Linked DNA regions of Homo sapiens. The protein of the gene in region 1 interacts with the protein of each later gene in a pairwise test. Each region holds a gene or a part of one and is shown in the gene's direction. Other genes may lie near its edges.

The links. Proteins that work in one complex are often made in the same cells at the same time.
Region 2: the proteins of UNC50 (region 1) and KCNJ6 interact in binary tests that used the Homo sapiens proteins (3 or more experiments, as listed by UniProt).

What each region holds. Positions count from the first base shown.
Region 1 is NC_000002.12:98,606,495-98,610,245, forward strand, and holds the start of UNC50 (protein unc-50 homolog), read left to right. Parts: upstream 1-2,094; 5' UTR 2,095-2,232; intron 2,233-3,148; exon of another isoform or gene 3,149-3,214; coding exon of another isoform or gene 3,215-3,265; coding exon 3,266-3,545; intron 3,546-3,751. Other genes in the region: COA5 (cytochrome c oxidase assembly factor 5), read right to left, coding at 1,813-1,911. UniProt on the Homo sapiens protein: Involved in the cell surface expression of neuronal nicotinic receptors. Binds RNA.
Region 2 is NC_000021.9:37,713,813-37,717,563, reverse strand, and holds part of KCNJ6 (G protein-activated inward rectifier potassium channel 2), read left to right. Parts: intron 1-328; exon of another isoform or gene 329-443; intron 444-1,362; exon of another isoform or gene 1,363-2,432; coding exon 2,433-3,353; intron 3,354-3,751. UniProt on the Homo sapiens protein: Inward rectifier potassium channels are characterized by a greater tendency to allow potassium to flow into the cell rather than out of it.

The sequences.
Region 1 (3,751 bases):
TACCAGCTGTCCCAACCATAATCTCTGCCTACAGCATTCTAGCCAAACAGCTCCGCTTTCTATACTGGAGAGACCATGTTCCATTCATCAGTATTTGTTCCCTGAACTGGAGCCTGGCGCTCCGTACATGTTTGCTGTATCAACCGCTGCAGAAAGCCAGCTTGGAATTCTCTGTGCTGCTGCTATTGTCCTCCACTTGGAGTTTCTTTCCTCAGTCCTACTCAGTGTACTTTCTTCCCTTGACTACTCATCAACATGGCCTTCCGATGCTGAACGTCTGGATAAAATCCAGTCTCCTCACTCTGACACACATACAGGCCTTCACACCTGGCTGCAACCTTCCCCTCAGGCCTTCTGTCGCATTCCCCTATGGCAGGACACTAGCTCCTCTGCGCCCTCCCACATCTCCCTGCCTCTGCACTTGCTGTTCTTTCAGATTTTCCCCACAACCACAACAGTTCCCACTCCTTTACTTGATAAACTACTACTCAACTTTTAAGACTCAGCTCAAATGTCATCTCAGAAGATTCCAAATTCTGAAGCAAAATCAGACGCTCTCCCTTGGGCTAACGCATTTTTCTCCTCAAGATCTAGTCATTAAACACATGTTTAATAAATGCTTACAGTCTTATGGCAGGAATTTAGACCCTTAGATGTCTATTTCTCCCATGACACCAAGCTTACATGGGTAGTGACTGTTACTGATTCATCTTCGTTATCACCAGTGTCAGGTACCATGCCTGCCACTTAAGAGGCATTTACCAGGAGCTGGCTGAACGGCAGCACCAGTGAGTAAGGGGCAGAAGGGACACAGCCCTGGACAGGGGAGCCTGAAAACAACGGTACTTCAGTTTCCTCATTTATATAAGGAAGTTGGGCGAGATAATCTCTTAAATTTATAATAACTCAAGTTTTACTAGACATTGGGAGGCGAGAATGGCTGACTGCTAAAATCAGTGAACCAAACAAATTGTGACTCGGTAGAAACACTGGTACAGTCTTACAGTGGATGTCCATTTGGGGGTAATCTTTTCTCTGAAATAACAGCAACTTTCTGAAACTACATCCCCCAATGCAAAGACAATTGCACACAATTGAATGCCCTCTCGTCGGGCCTCTGCAATTGGAAAAGGCACTTGTGCTTTACTTGAGCTCTAATCCAGAACTCAGGTCCACTGTGAACCTCACTACATGTTTCAGTGCATTCCAAGAGGGTGCTGAGGAGACCTGTGTCTGTAGCCGGGGAGTGAAGGAAGAGTGTAGGGGAAGCAAGATACGAAATCGTGAAAATATGGAGTTGCCTTATTTTTACAACTTAACATCCAAGAATGCAGAGAACTGTAACTCAGAAACAAATTCACATCAACACAAGTCAAACTGAGCACACATTGTCACAACTGAACAGGCAGGAGACACTACTGGCCAGGGCAGTGTACCAGGTTTACGCAACTCTCTGGAATCATTAATTCTACAGATTATCATTTCTAGGCAGGCAAGAAACCTGGCTTATTCTCCTTTATGTCTCCAAAGCCTAGTAGAGTGCTAGCATTCAATAAAGGCTTCGTGAACTGAAATGGGTTAACCTTTACAAAAACCCGACAGGGTGCGTTTATCGTTATCTCCGATTTAACCCCACAGGGAACTGGGGCTCCGACAGCTCAGTGGATCTGCGCACGTTCAGTGAGCCCGAGCTGTGACCTACGCCCGGGATGGTTAACTCCAACCGCCGCCGCGGGCGACCCGCTGCCCTCCGCCGAGCCAGGCCTGCCTGGGACAGGGGTCGTCACCACCGGGAGCGCCCGGCCGCGCTACCTGGACCACACAGTCCGACTGCAGCAGACACGCGCCCAGGTCCTCCTTCAGGCCCGCGCACGCGCCGCCCTGCGGCTTGTCCTCATAATACTTAGGCATGACGGCGCTTCCCCTCCGATGCGGACGCGACTTTCTCCCACCGCAACACTTGCAACCGGGTCGGGAGCGAGCGAGGCCCCAGTCTCAGGGGACCGGAAGCCAGCGGCAACAACTTCCGGCGGGCCGCGGCGGTAGGGCCGAGGACTACGGGGGCCGAGAGGTGGCGCGTCCGCGGCGGAAGTCGGTTCCCGTGACGCGGCGCGCCCCAAGGGCCGGCTCCGTTGAGGGAAGGGAAGCCCGCCCGGTGGCGGCTGGGGTCGGCTGCTGGGAGGAGGTGGTGGGCTGGTTCGGACGTGGGTCGAGGCTGTAGCAGGACTCCAGGTGAGGCCTGAGGACCACTCTGCCCTCCCGCGGCCCGGGCTCGCGCCGGGGGCCATTTAATCCCGACAGCTTGCGGCCTGACGTCGCTGCGGCCTGGCAGTGACCATGTCGGCGTCCGGCCCCTCGGCCGGCGATAGAGTTGCGGCTAAAATGAAAGGACGCCCAGTTACATTTGCATCGTAGATAAAGAAAGAGCATTTAGTATAAGCATGTCCGAAATGTTGCGTGGGATGTAGGCATACTAAAACCTTATTCGTGGCCTGTCTGAAATCCAAATGGAGCTGGGTATTCTGTGTTTTTATTTGCTAAATCTGGCAGCCGTACCCGCGGCCCCGGGCAGGGAGGGAGCAGCTGGGCTCGGCCAGACCCTGCCGGCGTCTGGGGGGCCTGCGAAGTGGAGGGGAGACGGGCAGCCGGGCAGTGGCCGGCGTTCCCCGGAGCTCGGACCGGTTGGATTGGACTCCGACGCTACCGCTCCCTCTGCTGAACTATTCCGGATGTAAAACACTAGGGATCGGAGTTTTTCTTGGTTTTTTAATCTCATTCTAGTGACCGAGAAGCTTGCTGGCAGTGCGCTGATGGATCTGTGTGAATAGGCCATTTATTTGACCTCTTCAGTAACACTGTTCTAACCGGCTGAAACTGCTTTCTTAGGCATTTTCTTAAAAGCTTGGTGGTTAAGAGCACGGAATTTCGAGTCAGATTTCCAATCTTGGCTCTATCACTATCCTCGGAGTCATGGGGCAGTCACATCATCCCTGTCTCTGTAATGGTAGCTGCCCCTGGATAAGTGTTATTAGGTGATTCAGAAGGGTGGGCTGTTGCCCTTGCCTGAGGTTGCAGTCTGCGGTTCCCAAGCCCCAAGACCCGCCTCAGAACTAACTGCATTTGCTTTTGACTCCTGGCCTTTCTCTAGGGTTGGGAAGAACATGGAAAGTGACCTCCCTGCCAAATAACTCAGAAGAGGAGTGTCGGTAGCCAAATGTTTCTTCAGAATACGTGTAAAAGAAATGTTTTTCTTCCATCTAGGAAGATGTTACCGAGTACTTCAGTGAATTCCTTAGTGCAGGGGAACGGAGTCTTGAATTCCAGGGATGCGGCAAGACACACAGCCGGAGCGAAACGCTACAAATATCTGAGAAGGCTTTTCCGCTTTCGGCAAATGGACTTTGAATTTGCTGCCTGGCAGATGCTCTACCTGTTCACATCCCCACAGAGAGTTTACAGAAATTTTCATTATCGAAAACAGACGAAGGACCAGTGGGCCAGAGATGACCCTGCTTTCTTGGTCCTGTTAAGTATCTGGCTCTGTGGTAAGTGTGTTTATCTGAGATAGAATTGAACGCTGAGTGTTTCTGATTAGATTTTTTGTTATAAATGTGTTGTGGGTCAGAATCTGGAAATATTGGAAACTATTTCTCCTTTTTACTGAAGCCTCAAAAAATCTCACAGGAAAGAAAGTTGTAGTCTTGGTTCTACAGGTCCCAAGCAGATGCCAGAGTAAACTGTTACCCTAGGA
Region 2 (3,751 bases), on another chromosome or scaffold:
GACCATTCAAGGACAAGAACACCCTGCCATGTAGGGGGTAGCGGCAGTGAGAAAGCCATGGCCTCTGCCTCCCTCCACACATCCCAACCCACCTCCAGTGAGAAGGACATGGCCTTTGCCTCCATCCATACACCCACCCCATCTCCAGTGAGAAGGACATGGCCCCTGCCTCCCTCCACACACCCACCCTAACTCCAGTGAGAAGGACATGGCCTCTGCCTCCATCCATACACCCACCCCACCTCCAGCCCTCCCAACCTCAACAGCCCCCCATCAACACCTATCCTGGTATTTGTTCTAAGAAAGGGAAAAAAGCAAATTTTCTTACAAATGAATGACTTTTCTTATTTTCAATGAAGGACTACTGAGGGAGATCATCTAAAAGTCAAAGCTGTCAGACTAGAGAGTAGGCTCTGCAGAACAGATGCTGTCTCTTCCTGAGGCTGAAACACAAAAACAGATCCAGGAGATTGATTTTTAAGGCAACTGATCATCCATGAGCAAGGTTAACTCATAAGTTAGGTTGGGGGCACTCAAATCCCATCTCCGGCTATGTTCTTATTCAGATAAATGATGGTTTGTGGAGAGATGACATTTGTCCTTTAACCAAGATTAAAAACAGAGTGTCCATAAAGGAAACACATGGCAGAGTCAAACGACACAGAATTTAAGTCTGGAGGAAGAAATTTCTTACCAAACTTGTAGAAGACTTTAGTATTATTGGCCAAATAAATAATTTCATAAGTGGATTATATGCTTTTAAACAGCAGAAATCGGTTCCAAAATTCCCCTGCACTCAAGTTTTAGGAGAGCTTTCCTAATGCATTATTAACTAATGAGTGAACCAGTGCATTAATCATGAAAGCCATAAGAAACAACATAACTAGACATGGTGCCTCATGCTTGTAATCCCAGCATTTTGGGAGGCCAAGGTGTGAGGATGGCTTGAGACCAGGAGTTCAAGACCAGTCTGAGCAACATAGTGAGACCCCCGTCTCCATGAAAATAAAATAATTGGCCAGGCATAGTGACATAAGCCTGAGCCTCCTGTGCCTACTCAGGAGGCTGAGGTGGGAGGATCACTTGAACCCAGGAGATCAAGGCTGCAGAGAGCTATGATGGTGCCACTATACTCTAGCCTGGGTGGCAGAGCGAGACCCTATCTCTAAAAAAAAAAAAAAAAATTTAAACTTTTTTAAAAGAAAAAAAATAACCACAAGCTAAAATTACAGATGTTGAATGTTGAGGAGGCAGAAACCAAATCAAATATGTAAGCACACAGACAGAGAGAACATTTCCCCACCCTTTTTTACTTACCTTGGCATTGAATCAACCATTAAAGTACAATGCATGCATACTTACCGACAAAAACCAGAAATGTTTTTTAAACCCTGAAATTTGGCCAATAGTTCAAAGAGCTTGTTCAAGACTCTTGCCCTAAACATAAGGAAAGTGACAAGGGAACAATTTATTACAAAAAAATATTGATTGCAAGTCTGTTACATGCAGGCACAGATCACATACATGGTTTTGTTTAACCTTATAACAACACTGTGAGTTGGGTATCATGATCAATTTTGTAAATGAGGAAACTGAGGCTCACGAATTTGGATAGTGTGTTGTAAGTCAGTTCAGGCTGCCATAATAAAATATCACAGAATGGGTGGCTTAAACAATGGACATTTATTTTCTCATCGTTCTGGAGGCTGGAGTTCAAGATCAAGGTGTTGGCAGGGTTAGTTTCTGGGAGCCCTCTCTCCTTGGTTTGCAGATGGCCACCTTCTCCCTGTGTCTCATATGGCTTTTCCTCTGTTTGTGTGCACCCCTGGTGTCTCTCCCTCTTCGCATAAGGATACCAGTCCTATTAGATTGGAGCCCCAACCCTATGGCCTCATATAACCTTTAACTATCTCCTTAAAGGCCTTATCTCCCAATACTGTCACCTTAGGGGTTGGGGCTCAAGCCCCATATGGATTTGGTGAGGACACAATACAGTCCATAACAGATATCATGGCCAAGAGCCCACTAAGAGTTGCTAAGTAGTAGAGCTAAGCCTGTCTGAATCTAAAGAGGACTCCTTCATCAGAGCTTACTGCCTCTCCCATGCCACAGCATCTCAGAGTTGGGAGGCATCCCTCTGTGAGAGCTGACTCAGTAGAACCTGCTGGCAGGGACACAATTTTGCAGCAATAAGCTCCGTCCTGGTGGGCAGGATGGTGAAGTACTTACACAAACTAGATCGAAGAGCACAGAAGTCCAAGTCAACTAGAGGCCTATCCAGATGGTGTGGAATAAAAATGGCTTTGTCTACTTTGTTTATAGCTACACAAATGGTATTTGGTTTCACCAGCCCATACAAAGTGTGCCGTTCCATTGTCCTCAAAGAGCCAGCCTTTCATTCAGTGTTTCTTTTCTTTTCTCCAAACCACCAGCTAACGTCCTGGAGGGCGACTCCATGGATCAGGACGTCGAAAGCCCAGTGGCCATTCACCAGCCAAAGTTGCCTAAGCAGGCCAGGGATGACCTGCCAAGACACATCAGCCGAGATCGGACCAAAAGGAAAATCCAGAGGTACGTGAGGAAAGACGGAAAGTGCAATGTTCATCACGGCAACGTGAGGGAGACCTATCGCTACCTGACCGATATCTTCACCACATTAGTGGACCTGAAGTGGAGATTCAACCTATTGATTTTTGTCATGGTTTACACAGTGACCTGGCTCTTTTTTGGAATGATCTGGTGGTTGATCGCATACATACGGGGAGACATGGACCACATAGAGGACCCCTCCTGGACTCCTTGTGTTACCAACCTCAACGGGTTCGTCTCTGCTTTTTTATTCTCAATAGAGACAGAAACCACCATTGGTTATGGCTACCGGGTCATCACAGATAAATGCCCAGAGGGAATTATTCTTCTCTTAATCCAATCTGTGTTGGGGTCCATTGTCAATGCATTCATGGTGGGATGCATGTTTGTAAAAATCTCTCAACCCAAGAAGAGGGCAGAGACCCTGGTCTTTTCCACCCATGCAGTGATCTCCATGCGGGATGGGAAACTGTGCCTGATGTTCCGGGTAGGGGACCTTAGGAATTCCCACATTGTGGAGGCTTCCATCAGAGCCAAGTTGATCAAATCCAAACAGACCTCGGAGGGGGAGTTCATCCCGTTGAACCAGACGGATATCAACGTAGGGTATTACACGGGGGATGACCGTCTGTTTCTGGTGTCACCGCTGATCATTAGCCATGAAATTAACCAACAGAGTCCTTTCTGGGAGATCTCCAAAGCCCAGCTGCCCAAAGAGGAACTGGAAATTGTGGTCATCCTAGAAGGAATGGTGGAAGCCACAGGTAAGATGTGTTCTATCCTGGGATGGCTGTGGGATAGATGCTCATTTTAAACTGGACCTGATGTTCTTATCTATTACAAGATCTAGAATACTGAACCTCACTCAATATTGACAACATCCCCTTGCTTCATGACATAGTATGCCTACATGTCTCACCTGAAGTATATCCACCAAGAAGCCTAACCATTTAGTTTTTTAAAGCCCTTTGGAAAATAAATTAATGAACAATGAAAAATCACCATGTAATATATTTTAAGTCTCCAAATATTTACCTAAATTAAACTCTGATCTGTCTCTAAAGCATGTTTTAAATGGCCTTAAAACATTGCTAATTTAAATACTTGAGGTTATTTGTTACCAAGTTAGAAGGAGGAAGTTAAGCCTTTCAAAGGAAGCCTG